Linked DNA regions of Homo sapiens: region 2 is linked to region 1. A link means that fine-mapping ties the variant in region 1 to the expression of a gene that starts in the linked region. Tissue or cell type: whole blood. Region 1 holds a variant in brackets; the other region holds the start of a gene. All regions are shown on one strand. Distances are from middle to middle.

Region 1 (11,040 bases):
GACCTGGAGCTCAGGCACGCAGTGACTCCCCAAGGTAGGGGACTCTGATGATGACACACCCAGGAAGAGTTGGATGTCATGTCTGTGGGTTGCCTGGAGCCCTGGTGCCCAGGAGCGCGTGGGCTGCATGCCTTTTGGGCTCTCCTGGTTAAAAACAGTGAGCAAAGGCAGGTGGCTATATGTAGGCACAGAGCTGGGCCATCCAAGTCCGACTTTGCCAAAGCCTCACGGTAGATGGGGGCAGGCCTTATTAGTTCTGCTTTGTAGATGGGAAAGTGAGTCTGGGAGCTGGGAAGGGACTGGCCAGAACTGCCCAGGTGACCGCAGTGCCTGGAGGCGAGCCAGGTGCTGCCGGGGTCTGCATGCCTGCCCCGGGGAGCCACGTCCTCACACCTGCCCCCTTGGCCTGCACCCCAGGGGACCGGCTGAACGAGCGCGTGGCCTACCACCGGCTGGCCGCCCTGCAACACCGACTGGGCCATGGCGAGCTGGCAGAGCACTTCTACCTCAAGGCCCTGTCGCTCTGCAACTCGCCGCTGGAGTTTGACGAGGAGACCCTCTACTACGTGAAGGTGTACCTGGTGCTCGGTGACATCATCTTCTACGACCTGAAGGTGGGTGGGGAGGGGCTGGGCTCAGGGTGTTCCCGGCCCCCTTGGAGTGGGATCTCCACCCAGACCCCTGAGGCATGTGTTCCAGCCTTCCTTAAGAATGGCCCAGTGGCCTCCCTGGAGCGCTGCGCCCGGCTGGAGGAGCTGGCAAGGTTAGCAGACACAACCCAGCTCCCGAGCGGCCAGGCCTCACCCTCAAGAACTCAGCCTCAGCCAGGGAGGCTGATACATGAGTGGGCAATGGTGGCCTCTCGGTAAAGAAGGGGGATTGTAGTCAGGGGGGCCCTCCTGGAGAAGGGGACACCAAAGCTGAGTCTTGGCAGTCAAGTGTCAAGTTGTATCTAACAAAGAAAACAGGGTAGGGAGAAGGACATTTGGGGGGATGGCATCATCCTCACATTGAATCCATGTTGCAACATCCAACCCAAATCCTGGCGCCTCTGCTAGGAAGCCTGCCAGGGTGCCAGCCTGCACTGAGCAACTCCTTCCTGGAGTCCCGAGACACCTTGAATCTTCACATCACCCAGGCAGGGTGGGGCGGGGCCGGTGTCTTACCACCTGCTTCACAGACAGGGAAACCCCAGCTCAGGGCAGGTGCAGTGGGGCGGGGCCCCAGACAGCCAGGCTGAGGCCTTGCTGGTCGGGTCTGTCTGGAGAGGAGGTGCTGGGACCTGTGCTCCCTCTGCGCCCAGCCCTGCAGGGGTGGAGAACTGGGACCGGCAGACTCGGATCTGGGATGTCCCCACCCCCTTGCCCAGCAGGCGCCCGCCCCTACTCAGCATCACACTGGCACTGCATCGGTGCTCGTTGTGGGCTGGGGGGCCAGGGCGCTCCAGTCCAGGGACTGAGCTCTTGGGGGCCTTAGAACAACATGAGGAGCTGCGGCAACCCTAAGACCCCGCCCCGTATCCCCCGCGGCAGGCCTGGGGCTGCCAGGGAGGCCCCCGCCCGGTGCTGGGGACACCTGGTGGTCAGAAGCGGTCCCTGTGGCCTCCCAAGTCCCAGCCAGACGGGGAAGTGCCAGGTGTCTGGCCCAGAGGGACGCTGCTCACTGCTCAGGGGCTGGCCTGGGACCCAGGGGACGGGCCTTCCAGAGGGGACTTTATCTCTCTTAGTCATGCCTGCTGCCCACTCCGCCCACCCAGGAGGAAGGAAAGGACGAAGTAGTCCCTGAGAGGCCAAAGTCCATGGCTGGGGTCAAGGGGCACAGCCCTCTGGGCCTCATGGTGACTGTGCTGTCAGCGCAGGCCAGCTTCCCACAGGGAGGCCCCCTCGGAATTCCCCCAGGGCTGCTGTCTTTCCAAGGCCACACCCTCCTCCTTGTGTAGAGGTGCCGGATCCAGGGCCCAGAGAGGTGGCAGAGAAAGCCGGTTTGGATGGGGCCTGGAAGGCTGGCAGAGAGGCAGGGGTAAATGGGCATCTTTGCCGATTGCCTCTAAAATGGGGTCCCCTTTAGTCTACATGTGAGAGTGAGCCCTGGAATAGGGTGGATTAGGTGTGTCCTGGCTCAGCCTGCCACCCACTAGCTGCTGCACGCACTACAGGCACATGCAAATGCACATGCACGCTGCACGCACAGGGACACACACACACACACAGAGACACATGCACACACATGGACATGCACACATGAGCACACACAGGCACAGGCACAGAGACACATGCACACATGGACACGCACACGCAAATGCACACAGGCACACGCACACACAGGCACAGGCCCCATGTACACACAGGCACATGCACAAATACACAGGCACATGCACACACACGGACACGCACACGCAGATGCACACAGGCATATGCACACATAGGCACACACAGGCACACGCAAATGCACCCAGGCACATGCACACAGGCACACACACAGACATGCACACACACAGGCACATGCACACGCAAATGCACAGAGGCACACGCACACAGGCACGTGCACACACACAGGCATACACGGACACAGGCACATGCACACAGAGACACATATGCTTTGGCTGGCTCCTTCCTGTTTAGTTGGGATGCCACCCGCTTCAGGAAGCCCTTGCCTCCCACCCCAGGCTGAGTCTGGGGCCTCCTGGGCCCCCACAGGCTCCTGGGCTTGCCTCTGCCACAGCCCTGGCCACCCTGTGTGATCAGTGTTCACTCCCAGGTCCCCCAGAGGAGCAGGGACGTTAGGCTCAGCCATGCACCCGGCACAGAGTCCAGTGTTCGGTGGGGCTGGGGGGCGTTGGATGAGCAGTGATGTGACTCGGGCCCTTCTCGCACCCCTGCCCTGTGTGTGGGGCGGGGCCGTGAGGGCATGGGCTGCTGCATCTTAGACTTTGTCCTTGGCCCTGGGAGCCATCTTGAGATGGTAAAGGGGAATGGGCCAAGCTTGGGTCTTAGAGAGGTCCCTTGGGTGACCCCCATGTGGAGGAGGTGCCTGGGGAGAAGCTGGGTGGGGGATGGGAGGGTCAAGGAGGAGGTCTGGGAAGTGGCATCCCAACCCAGGGATGGTGAGTTTGAGCCACAGATGCATTGAAAATGGGAGTGGATGTCTGGGGCATCACACTCCGTCAATATTTCAGGGAAGATTCCCAGAGAGGACACCTGGGAGATGCTTTTATACCTGGCCCGGCCCATGGAGGGCCTGGAAATGGTCAGCATGGACAGGGGCCAGAGGGAAGCCTGGGTCACTCAACACTGTGCCCCTGCTGTGGCTGGGAGCCATGGGTCCTGCATGGAACTCTCAGAGCAGGCAGGATCCGCCCCAACCTCAGCCCACGGGGAAAGCAGCCACTGCCTGCAGAGAGGGTGGGGCTGGGACAGGAGGCTCGGGGTGAGTGGGGTGTAGGGACAATCAGGAATCCTTCCAGGGGGTGCCAGGGCCGTCTCCACCTCCTGCAGCTGAGCCCACAGCAGTGTCACAGGCTTCGGGGCTCATGGGGTGAGCCAGCATTGGCCGGACATGTGGAATGACCTGGGCACAGGAACGGCCTCTGGGGAGACTGGCTCCGAGTCCCCCTTTTGCTGAGCATGGCCTGTCCCCTTCAGGACCCGTTTGATGCAGCCGGGTACTACCAGCTGGCGCTGGCAGCCGCCGTGGACCTGGGCAACAAGAAGGCACAGCTGAAGATCTACACGCGGCTGGCCACCATCTACCACAACTTCCTCCTGGACCGTGAGAAGTCGCTCTTCTTCTACCAGAAGGCCAGGACCTTCGCCACAGAGCTCAACGTCCGCAGGGTCAACCTGCCTCCTCTGCCACTCTGCGGGTGGGCCCCCTGGTTGGCCCCCAGCCACCCTCGCTGAGGACAGCATCCAAGGGAGTGGGTTTTGTGCAAGGGCTGGGGGTCTCCTGCCTCTCCTGGTGTCGCCGGTGGCTCATTTTCTGGCAAATGGAGGCACGAACGCAGGGGCCAAATAGCAATAAATGGGTTTTGTTTTTTTTTTGCAATAACTTAT[T/C]GAAGTCAGCAGGGCATCCTTCCCTAGTATGCTTCCTGGGGCGTGTCTAGGGGCCAGCTCCCTTCCCTGGGGGCAGCCCTGCTGCTATGTCCTGATCTTGGGTATGAGAAGGACCCCGAGTCCAACAGACCTGTGCCAGGTCACCATGAGCCTGGGTTTCGTTGGCGGCCAGAGGGGAGACGGTGGTGGAACTCCCTGGGCAGCTGCTCGGAGCTTTTGCCGTAGGTCTTGTGCCACCCTTGCCTTTAATCCTCAGGCCACTGTGCGCGGAGGTGGGGGCTGCTAGTGCCCCCATTCGCCAGTGAAGAAATAGAGACACAGAGAGGTTAACTGTCTGGCCCACCATCACACAGACGCAGAGCCCAGTGCGCTGACCACACCACCCTGCCGGCCTGCTGCCAGGAAGGTGCCCCCATTAGGACCCAAGGTCAGTTCCTGCACCTCTCTTGTGGTGTCAGGAGAGCCACAGGGCGGTGAGGGTGGCCCAGGGGATCCCCCACTAAGTGTCCTCTGGTCCCAGACTTGGCTGGGCTGAGCCTGACCAGTCCCACCTCCAGCCACTGGTCAGTCCTGTGGGAAGTGAGATGCAGGGATCTCTGCCTGTGTAGACGCTGCTGCCCAGTGTTGAAAGCCTTTTCTGGGCTGCCCCTCAGCCCTCCCCATGTACCCCTCCCCTTCCGGCCCCCGGCCCTCATCTCAGTCCCCAGGAATCCCAGGTTTTCCTTCTTGGAATCTCTTGGCCCCAGGAAACACGGCTCACACGGTCTCTTCGCCAGTTTACGGCAAGGAAACCGAGGTTCAGAGATTGTGGGTGCCCCACGTGATTCTCACAAACACTGCACTCTCCCAGGCCCCTCTTTTAAACACTTTTAAAATGAGGTGACATTCACATCGCATGAAATTAACTATTTCAACGTGAATAATGTGGTGGCATTTGTGCACTCACAGTGCTGTGCACCCACCCACACCGTCTAGTTTCAAAAGGCATTCATCTCCCCAGAAGAAACCTCCCGTCCTCATTAAGCAGTTACCCCTCCTTGGTATCCCCCAAGCCCCTCTCCTGGGGTCCGAAGAGGGACTTGCCAGTGAGCGGAGCTCTGATAATAAGGAATCAGGCACCCACTGCTGGTCCAGGCCTGGGTTGGTTTTCCACCCAGCAGAGGTGGCAGAGCCAGGAGGGTCTGGGAGCGCTACAGGGGAGCCCCATGCTTGCCGCCGGAGCCCTGCCCCGCCCCGAGCTTCCCCACCAGGGGGCAGCAGAGAGCTTTCCAGAACCCGCCGCGGGGCTGGAGGGAAGCAGTGGCTCAGAGCTGCTGACAAACCTCATGTTGACCCCAGACCGCTGTCTCTGTGGGTTGGGCTTGGGAATTGGAGAGGAGGCCGCATGATTGGAAACATGAAGACGGCACGGCCTGGCTGGAGCAGCGGGAAGCGTCGTCACGGTCACTGAGGACACAGACCTCCTGCCTGCCGGGCCGGGCCTGCAGCCATTCCTCTCGGGGTGGGGTCTGCAGTTCCGGGTTGCTCTCAGCCCCCGACCTGCCTCAGAGTCCTGGGGGCTTTGGGACTGTGCCTCCCCATTTCCACCCACCCTGGCTGGTGCCATCAGGGGCCTGGATCCTGGGATCCTGTTCCTCTCGGGCAGCAGAGCATGGGGGACCAGAGGAAACGGTGGGTCTTCAAGCCCCACATTCAAACCCCAGCCCACCACTCACAGTCTGGGGGTTCGGGGTGAGGGAGTTGATTTCTCTGAGCCCCAGTTTGGTCACCACTAAAATGAGACTGACATACTGGGGCAGAGTGCCAGCCCCAGGGCCAATAGAGGCCTGTTTCCTACTAACAATACTTCTTACTCCTAAGAAAAGCTCCAACAACCACACGCTATGGAACACTCAACCCAGGTCAACTTGTCAGAGACATGTGAACCAGAGCAGCTCCATCTTGAATGGGGGCTGGGTAAAGTGAGGCTGAGACCTGCCGGGCTGCATTCCCAGGAGGTTAGGCATTCTTAGTCCCAGGATGAGATAGGAGGTCGCACAAGATACAGGTCATGAAGACCTTGCTGATAAAGCAGTTTGCAGTAAAGAAGCCGGCCAAAGCCCACCAAACCCAAGGTGGCCACGAGAGTGACCTCTGATTGTCCTCACGGCTCATTATATGCTAATTAGAATGCATTAGCTGCTAAAAGACACCCCCACCAGCACCATGACAGTTTACAGATGCCATGACAACGTCTGGAGGTTACCTTATAAGGTCTCAAAAGGGAGGGGAGAAACTCTCAGTTCTGGGAATTGCCCACCCTTTTCCTGGAAAACTCATGAATAGTTCACCCCTTGTTTAGCATATGATCAAGAAATAACCATGAAAATGGGCAACCAGCAGCCTTTGGGGCCGCTCTGCCTATGGAGTAGCCATTCTTTTTTTTTTTTTTTTGAAATGGAGTCTCGCTCTGTTGCCCAGGCTGCAGTGCAGTAGCGTGATGTCGGCTCACTACAACCTCCGCCTCCCAGGTTCAAGCAATTCTCCTGCCTCAGCCTTTCTAGTAGCTGGGATTACAGGAACCCGCCACCACGCCCAGCTAATTTTTTGTATTTTAGTAGAGACAGGGTTTTGCCGTGTCGGACCAGGCTGGTCTCGAACTCCTCACCTCAGGTGATCCACCTGCCTCGGCATCCCAAAGTTATGGGATTACAGGAGTGAGCCACTGTGCCTGGCCAGAGTAGCCATTCTTTTATTCCTTTTCTTTCCTAATAAACTTGCTTTCACTTTATGGACTCGCCCCGAATTCTTTCTTCTGTGAGATCCAAGAACCCTCTCTTGGGGTCTGGGTCGGGACCCCTTTCCAGTAACAAACTTGCTTAACCTCTCAGACCCTTCGTCTCTTCATCTGTCACCAAAGACAAAGCCTACCCCAAGGTTCCAAGAGTGAGGAGAGAATGCATGGGAAACGAGGGGCACAGAGTTGGTGTGCAGAACCAGGCAGCCAGTCCCGTTGTTCTGTGGTGGGTGGAGGTCAGGGCTCGGCTGGCTAAGGCCTAAGCCCACTGGTCTCCAGCCCTGCTCTGCCCGTCGGAGGCTGGTTCCCGGGCAACAACCGCCGCAACAACAACCCCCTTCAGCAAAGTAGGCATGAGATGAAGAGATGTCCAGTGGGCACGTGCCCAGCTCTACGCAGCCAGTGGTCTCGCAGCCCAGAAGCCAGCTGCCCCAATTTTAGAAGGAGGCGGCCATGATCCCCAGGTTAACTCAGTCACCTTCCCACACACATTCAGCAAGCGCCCACTGCATGGGCTGCAGAAACTGCCTCAGGCAGGTGCAGGGAACTCCAGGAGTGTTCCAGGCCCTCCCAGAGGTGCTCCTGGGACTGCAGCTGAAATCACACTCCTTGTTGGGGTCCCTGGAGACTCTCCCCTGAACAGAGATGGAAAGAGCCTTGCCCAAGGTCACACAGCCCCCTCTCCTGACTCAGAGGCAAGGGAGCTCCGCCCAGCACAGCCGCCTGCACTCTCCTGGAGCCCACATCCTTCCCTGTACTGGTTCCTCCAGGGGTAAATATCGGCCGAGTCCAAGTTGGACCCTCATTTTGGATGAGGGAGCCGAGGCTCAGAGAGGGAGGGTCACCATCCTAAGGGTATGGAATGATCAGCATCCCAAGGGAACTGGCTGACCTGCTGCTGTTCCCTTGAATGGAGAGAGCACCATCTCCACACAAGGGAACAGCAGGGCCACCCAGTTCTAGGCAGGATTGGGCAGCATACAGGCCACCATTCCAAGGGTGCCCAGCAAGTCTACATCAGCCTTACCTTCGCCACGGAGCCCAGGAGTTGAGAGGAGGTGGTTTACGGCCCAGCGTGAGGCCAAACTCTCTCCTGAGCAGGGTTCTCCGGAGATGGGAGAGGCCACCTCAGGCAGAAGTGAGCTCCCCGTCTGCAGAGGGGTTCAAGCAGGCCACAAGGGTCTCCCACGTGAGTGGAGAAGTGTGTCCGGGTGACACTGTTTGGGCATAAAGGTGCCCTTGGACTCCAGTTGGCGCCATCAGTGATCCAGACTGTGTTTCCAGGGAGCTTGGCCGCAGTCAACTCACACGCCCTGTGTCCAGCGCCCGGCCTGGGGAGCAGGCTGTGGGTCTTAGGCCGGGCAGCTGGCGAGACCTGTGCACCGGCAGCAGGGTGGGGTCTATGCAAGCTCAGGGGCAGGAAGCAGGCTTGAGTCCAGGCTCTGCCTCTCTCTGACTCGCCCTGACCCAGAGCACCGGGCAGTGGGCTCCCGTTCGTATGCCTTGCCCCTCTGCGAGCCTCAGTTTTCTCAGCTATAAAATGGGGCAATGAGATGTACCTTGCTGAGCTACTATGAAGATCAACAGCATCGTAGGAAACATTTAGCACATTTTCCAGGGCTTGTCAGGTCCTCCAGGGTTGATGGAAAAACACAGCGAAAAGAATAATATGCCTCCCCCCAGATGGAAGTGCAGGCAGGCGGAATTCTAAACTGACTCTGCGTGCCTCCTTCCTCTTCAGCACAGGTGAGTCTGGGCTGTGATAGGATTATCACTTCTGCAAGTAGGTTGCAGTACGTGGGAAGGGTGAAGAGGTCTGCAGATGTAATTAAGGTCTCTAATCAGTTGACTTGGAGTTATTCAAAGGAAGATGATTGCAGATGGGCTTCGCCTAATCAAGTGAGTCCTGTGTAAGAGGGTTCAGCCTTCTCTGATTCTCCTACTGGCCTGGAAGTAAACAGCTTCCAGGCTGCACAGCACAGTAAACAGTGGGCTCCCCACAGAGAGGCCGGCCCAGTAGGGGCTGCAGGCTCTCTAGGAGCTCAACGGTCCCCAGCTGGCAGCCCTCAAGCACACGGGACCCCAGACCTACAATGGCACGGAGCTGAATTCTGCCAACAACCACGTGAATTTGGAAGGACGCTGAATCGTGGGGGAGATCACAGCCCAGCTGGCACCTCAATTACAGTTTGTGGTGACCCTGGGCAGAGAATCACATGAGGCTTCTGATGCAAGAAGCAACCCAAGAAAGGGGCGTTGCTTTAGGCTGCTGAATTTGTGATAATTTGGTACACAGCATAGATAGCAAATACAAGGCCAAGCCTAGGAATGGGGAGGCCGAGCCCCAGGCATCCCTCCAGCCCTGAAGGACTCATGGTGGGCGGTAGCCAGGCAGCCCTTCCCGAGGTCGCCTCCTCGCCTGCCCACTTACCTGTACCAGCAGGTCCACTCCTCAAACTGAGGTCTTCACGTTCAGCTCCCACACCAGGAATTAAGGAAGAAGGGAGAAGGAGGAGTAAGGCAGGAGAATGGGGAATTGGGGTAGCCAAGGGCTGGGGCATGAGCAAAGGAATAGCAGGTGCGGCCAGTTAGAGTAAGCCAGAGAACTGCAGGGGCAGCTGGTTCTAGGCAGGACTGGGCGGCACCCAGGCCACATCCTCGCTTCTGCGATAACAACACAGAAATTTCTACCGCAGCCTCTGATGGACCGCGGGCCAAGTGTCCACTTCACCTCTGATGGACCGCGGGCCAAGTGTCCACTTCACCTCTGATGGACCGCGGGCCAAGTGTCCACTTCACCTCTGATGGACTGCGGGCCAGTCCTTCATAGGGCGTAGCCAACTGGGGGCCTCTCGAGGGCACCCAGGGGTGTTGCCAAGTTCTTTAGCTTAATAAACACGTGAATTGAGGGGCCCTCAAGCCGCTTGCTAGAGCCGCTCCCACTCTGTGAATTGCACTTTTGCTTCTTCAGGAAATGTGTTTTGGTTGCTCCGTTCTTCTGTTGCTTGGTCTCTTGTTGCTTCTCTTGTTGCTTTGTGCGTTTTGTTCAACATGCCAAGACCCTGGACAACTCACAGTAATGACCTTCCATCGGGGAGCAGGGGGGCAGGTGTTGGGACCCCTGGCCTCCACCCTCCACCCAGCTGTGTGACCCCAGGACAGCCTGGGCTTCAGGTGGCCTTCTCTGCAGAGCACAGGGCACACGTCCTGAGCCCTGGCGTGGGCGTCCTGCGAGCACGGCCTCCTGTCCTGGACCCTGTTCGTCCGCTGCCGTGCTCACCAGGCCAGCCCTCGGTAACCCGCCAGAGCCAAACACAGGATTTCACAACCCCGGCCACTTTGGCCTGGGTCTGTGCGGCATCCCAGGAAAAGAGAATTCCAGGGCCAGGAGGTCTCCAGGAAGCAGGGCCGACCTCGTCCCTCCCATAGCAAACACGGCAGCTCCTCGTCTGTGACGGCTCCGATAAGCCCAGACTGCAGGATGAGGAGACCTCTGGGGACTCATCCGCATGGGGAGGGCTGGGTTTCCAGAGAAGTCTGAGAGGGGAGGCAGTTTCACAATGCCAGCACCCCAGGCTTCAGGCCAGGCCCAGCCCCTCTGGGGAGGATAGCCGGTGCCAGTCCCCTTGCCCTGTCCCCAGAGCCTCAGGGACTCCAAGAGGCCCAGGGGCAAGCCTCTCCCTTCACCTCCTGACCCTTGTCGGCCCCAAAGGGGAGCCCCTGTGTGCATCCCCACCTCCTATGCAGGAACGCACAGCAGACTGGCTATCTCCAGGCCAGCAGGGAGGACCCCGCTGTGTGGTCACGGCTCACACTGCCGGGCCCTGTGAACACACCCGTTCCCGACAGGGCCTGGATCCAGGGCAGAGTGCAAAGCTGGGCTGGTTCTGACCTAAGCCTTGTTTCCAGCACAAGCTTCGGGGGCCCCACCCGGGATGGGCCATGGTGACGGAGGAGGAGTGATGTTACCTTCCCACATGGATCCCACATGCTCTGGGACAGCCCTCCCTGTGCCGGGGGAAGTGCCCTGGAGGGAAGGAGGCCCTGGGACCACTGTGAGCTCAGCCTTCAGCCTTATGGGAGCTTCACCCCAAGCCCCTGACCCTGTAGGGACAGATCAAAGGAACCTCCAGAGCCACCTATGCTCTGGGGTCCCACTGGTGATCAATGCTCTTAGCAAAGGAGAGATGGTGTCGACCTCAACCTGACCAG
Region 2 (5,000 bases), 43 kb before region 1:
AAGACTGGAGCGATGCCACCTCTAGCCGGAGCATACCTGGAGCCCCAGAGGCTGGAGCAGGCAGGAAGAGGCCTCCCCTGGAGCTTCTGGAGGGAGCATGGCCCTTCCGACAGCTTGATTTTGGACTTTTGGCCTCCAGAACTGTAAGAGATGACATTTCTGCTGTCTGGAGACCCCAGTTTGTGGCACACAGTTGTGGCAGCCCCATGAAACTGATAGAGTGACTGCCCCTCGACGAGGCCAGAGAGAACACCATCTTCCTCCTCAGACGCAGCCGGGGCTGGGGAGCCGTGTCCCCGCAGGGAAGAAGAGCTGGTCTGGGAGCTGCGGCCCCTCTGCCTGTGGGTCAGACTTTCAGATTGCTGCCACTGGGGATTCTCTCAAAGTGTCCTTTGGTGCCTCTGAACCCTCCAACCCACCGTGTGCTCACTGAGCATGTTGATGGCATGGAAGGTGGGGCCTGGCCAGGCCGGGCCGGGGAGCCTGGAGGCTGGGCCCCTAAGGGGCTTGGGCCTCACCTGGGCCATCCTCGAGTTCTTTTCAGGGCAGCGAGGGGCATGCCTAGGGCATCTGCAGCTGCACCCCCGATCCCGGGCCCTGGCCTCAGTGGGGCGGAGGGAGGGTGTGACTTGAGGGCTCACCGTGCAGGATGCAGGGACTTGAGGTAAGCGTCAGCCCCTGGGCAGAGCCTGTGATTAGAGAAAGGTGAACAGGACGGGAGGGCGAGGATGAAGGACGCAGGTGTGGGCTGGAGGGGCTTTGACCTGAGTAGCTCACCTGGGCTGGGAGTTCTCAGCCTGGGGTGACTTCACCCCCAGGGGATCAATATCTGAGCTATGTTTGGCTGCTATGATTAGAGGAGGGGGCTACTGGCATCCAGTGGGTGGAGGCCAGGGACCAGCTAAAACCCTCCAGTGCACAGGACAGCCCCCCGCCCTGCAACAAAGAAGGATGCGGCCCCAAATGTCGGTAGTGCCTTGGTTGAAAAGCCCAGCCCTAAAGCCTTCAGAACCAGTCAGACCTGGTTCCAGTCTTATCTTCTTGTTGGTCACTGGCCTTGGGCATGTCACATTACCTCCCTGAGCCTTAGTTTTCCTGTCTGTGAGATGGATACATAACTATTTGACTTAGGGATTATTCTTGGTTTTCTCAAACCAGGTGTGTGTAAAGCTCCGACCTATCACAGCACAGGCTGGAGGGATCCCTCCCATTCCCACTTCCTAGAGCTGGGCCGGAGCCCGCAGCCCACACCCACCACGTGGGTGCTCACACTCCTGTGTTGGCAAGGGCATCAGAGCAGGCAGACAGGCGGGACCAACAGGGCAATTTGAGTTCAGTTCTGCCTCTTGTCCCAGCTGACGTGAGCCCAGGCCAGGCTTCCTCAGCAGGCAGGGGCGAGATTACGTGCTTTGGCCTTGGGTCTGCCTGGCTGGGAAGGTTTCTGCTCTCAAACCTGGCTCAGGCCTGGAGACGGTGGGAGGGTAAAGAGGTAGACCCGTTGGGACAGGCCAGGCTAGCAAGGAGAGCTTGCGGTGAGGAGGAGGGGAGCCCATCTCTTCCCCTAAATGTTCCCATTGATGGAGCCAGTGGCCCGGAGGGCACCCGGGCAGAGACGGAAGAAATTGCACGTGAGCGTTTGTGTGCATACGTGTGCCTGTCCATGTGTGCACACACTTGTGCTTGTGAGTCTCTGTGTGCCCATGCATATGTATGTGTGTCTGCATGCACATGCGTGTGTGTGTGCATGCATGTATGTGTGCAGGCATGCGTGTGTGTGTGTGTGCAGTAAATGGAAGAGGAACAGAGATCAGAGCTGAGGCTGGCAGGGCTGAGGCAGCCGGTGGCTGGTGGACTTCCCCAATCCCAGCCTGGCGGGGGACTGGGTGCCCCTAGCCTCTACTACAGAGCCTGGGGGCTGGGCAGCGGGCAGGCAGGACAGGGCCTGGACCTCGTCCAGGAAAGAGCTAATGATCAACCGGCTGCGGTGTCTGTGCAGCCGCCCTGGGCCTGCCTCTCCGTCACCGGCCCTCAGGCGCAGGGAGGAAGTAGGGCAGGAAGCAGGGGGCGGAGGCCGCTGTGCAGTCAGCCTGGCTGTGGGCGGCCCCTGCCTGCTCCGTCCAGCTGGAGACAGCCCCGTGGGGCCAGCCAGCGCTGGGCCAGGAGCGGCCACCTGGTTCCTGCGTGCTACGGCCCTGTGGGCCTGGGAGCTGCCTCTGAGGAACACGCCGCAGGTATGGGGGGCTCCGGGGCAGGCGGGGCGTGGACTGGCCGAGCAGGCTGCTGTCTGCCAGTCTTGCCATGGTTGGATCTTTACACTTTCTTGAGGACTTTTCTGACCTGTTTGGGATGGGGGTGGAGCGAAACTGCGAGCTGGGGGCCTCGGGGAGGTCGTCGGCACCCTCAGCAGACCCCACTCAGAGCTCACAGGTGCTGGCAGTGCCAATCCGCAGTGATTGAGGGCAATGATTTCAGCTTTGACCAAGCACCCTTGCTTCTGGGACCTGGCCTGACCCCGTGCTGGCCCTTGGCATGAGCGGCCCTGGGGGTCTGGGAGCAGAGCCAGCCTGTCGCTGGATTCCAAGTCCAGCGGATCTCAGGTGTGACCCCAGCGCCCGGTTAGCTTGGGCCACACTACCAGACCTACCAGGGCGAGCCCAGCGCCTCAGCCTCACCCGGCACCGCAGTGGCTATAACTGGCCACTCTGATGCCGCCACCTGGGCCTCTTTTCCAACAACCAAATGGACCAGCAACTGGACCAGGGGCTTCAGCCTGAAAATTCCAGGGAGGGTCTGGGCCCAGCCTTCAACTGCAGGTGTGCCGGGGCGTGTGCTCCTGTGTGTGTACACCACTGAGACCCCCTCTGGGCCTGTGCGTGATCCCCAGGAGCCCTGGGAGCCCTGCCCTGTCTGTGAAGCGGGAGTTTCCAACCTTTTGCCGTTGACGAGGCTCAGATGAGATGAATAGCAAAGTGACGCTGGGGGGTGTTAGCGGTGTCGGCCAGTGCCAGGGCCAGGGGCAGCCTGCATGTGGGCCGGCCACTCAGGGTGTGGCCTCCCAGCGCCAGGCAGCGGGGCTGCGGCTGAGCTTGTGGCTGGAGGCAAGGCTGGGCCCGAGTCAGGTCTGGGTTTAGGATGGGTATGTGGGGGCTGGGCTCTGACCACCTGGGTTCAACCCCACCTGTGCTGCTTGGCTGTGTGACCTTGGGCAGGCAGAGTCACCGCAGCTGATGGCTCATCCGTGAAAGGGGCACAGCTGTGCCTCCCTCCTCCAGGTGAGCCGAGGATGCTGTGAGCACCCTGGATGGCCATAATTATGTGACTGTCAACACTGTTGTTGACAGTGATGACAACTGTGTCCCGTGTGGGGCGCTGGGCCAGCGTTTTTTGCATGGAGACGTCACTCACTCTTCCAGCAACACGGGTGACGATGGCCGCACAACACAGAAGAGCAAGGCAGGGCCCAGCAGCGCACGGGTGCGCCGGTTTCCCCTGCTGCCAGAGCGCAGGACACAGCCCTCTCGGTCGTGTTCTCTCGCGGCTCTGGAGGTCGGAATTCCGAACTCAAGGCGTCCCTCAGAAGGCTACTGGGCGGCTCCTCCCTGCCTCTTCCCGCTGCCTGTGGCTCAGGGCGCTCCTTGGCTGTGATTACATCAGTCCACTCTCCGCCCTGGTGGTCACATGGCCTCCTGCCCGGCTCCTCTGTGTGTCTCCGTGTCCTCTCTTTTACTTACAAGGACACCACGCACTGGATTTAGGGCCATCCTCATCTGGAACACCCTCATCCCAAGGGAAGGTCGCTTCATCTGCGCAGACCATTTCCAAATAAGGCCCCATTCTGAGGTTTCTGGGGGCATGAATTTTGAAAGGACAGTGTCACCCCAGGATGCGAGGTGACAAGCCAACCCTCCGGAGGTGCTTGGTGGCATAGGTGAGGTCTCAATGGCCCTAGAAGTATTTGTTCCGTAAGAGCCTGGCGAAAGCTTGGCCAAAGCTTCCCAAACCCATTCAGGGCTGGCCGCGGCCCTCTCCCTTCTTCTTCCAACCCACATTCACCAAACTCTGACTGTGGACCAGGAGCACTGTCCCTTTAACCCACTCGACCCACTTGTGCGGTGTGCGTGCTCATTCTCATTTTCTGGCTCAGTAAATTGAGGCATGGAGAGGCCTCCCAGACACCGGGGTTTGGCCCCACGTCTCCGTGTTCTGGAGCCAAACTCCACCCCTTCCCCCGGGGCTGGAGGCTGGCCTGGGGCTGGAGCCTGTTCTGACCCATCCAGGGCCCCCCAAGGGTTTGTCCTGATGATAAACTGAACAAACAGGATGAAGGCAGGAAGGAGAGAGTCCTGCAGGCTGCTTGGTGGTCCCCCAGCTGGGTGAGCTGGCCCCTGGGGGCGTCAACACCTGCCCGTGGTTGGGGCCTCTGCTTGTGCAGTGGTGGCTGGGCCTGCAGGGCTGAGGGAGGGGACGCTGTGGAGAAGGAGCTCACTTCCTCATCGCCAGGCTCTGCACAGGAATCCCACGCTTAGGGTTATAACAGCAGGTGGGAAATTCCCTGAGCCTGGGGAGCCCTCCTTTTCTCAGAAGACAGTCTCTGAGTACCAGCTGTGTGCCAGGCCCGGAGAAGCCCTGGATGCCGTTTCGAACAGGCCTGTTCCTAACCCAGGGGGAGGTGGTGGGCTGGGAGGCAGGCAGGTGTCCCGGGCATCAGCCAGTGGATGGAGAGAGGCTGCTGGGACTCCTGCTCTGCCTATAGGGACATAAGACCCAGCTTCTGAGGGACAAAAAGGCAGAGATGGGAGGACAAGGACTCCAAGGTCAGGCGTTCGGAGCGAAAGACCCCTTAAACCAGGGAGCTCGCATGCCCAGGGAGTGGATTCCAGCGCTTTGTTGAGACGCCTCCATGTGCTTCCGGAGAGGAGATGGGAAGACAGCCTGGCCTTGCAGGCAGGGGCTTCCTGGTGCTGCCACAGACTCAGGGCCAGGTGGTGGGCACAGGCAGC

The links. PIP is the estimated chance that this variant, and not a neighbour inherited with it, causes the effect.
Region 2: it holds the start of SH3TC1, and the variant in region 1 is fine-mapped to the expression of SH3TC1 in whole blood (TOPMed, PIP above 0.99).

What each region holds. Positions count from the first base shown.
Region 1 is chr4:8,237,057-8,248,096 of GRCh38, forward strand. It overlaps SH3TC1 (SH3 domain and tetratricopeptide repeats 1), which reads left to right. Exons shown (of 18, transcript NM_018986.5): 17 at 418-614; 18 at 3,642-4,047. The coding sequence ends at 3,899. Among named protein-coding and RNA genes, the nearest start is that of HTRA3, 27 kb to the right of the region's middle. RefSeq lists enhancers at 815-1,675, 1,676-2,534, 5,004-5,565, 7,588-8,089 and silencers at 1,412-1,461, 5,282-5,411. The variant T/C (reference allele first, on the strand shown) is at 4,053.
Region 2 is chr4:8,197,175-8,202,174 of GRCh38, forward strand. SH3TC1 (SH3 domain and tetratricopeptide repeats 1) reads left to right here and starts at 2,116. Exons shown (of 18, transcript NM_018986.5): 1 at 2,116-2,231. RefSeq lists enhancers at 1,353-1,452, 1,803-1,922, 2,953-3,002, 3,133-3,182, 3,313-3,462 and 1 more and a silencer at 2,133-2,322.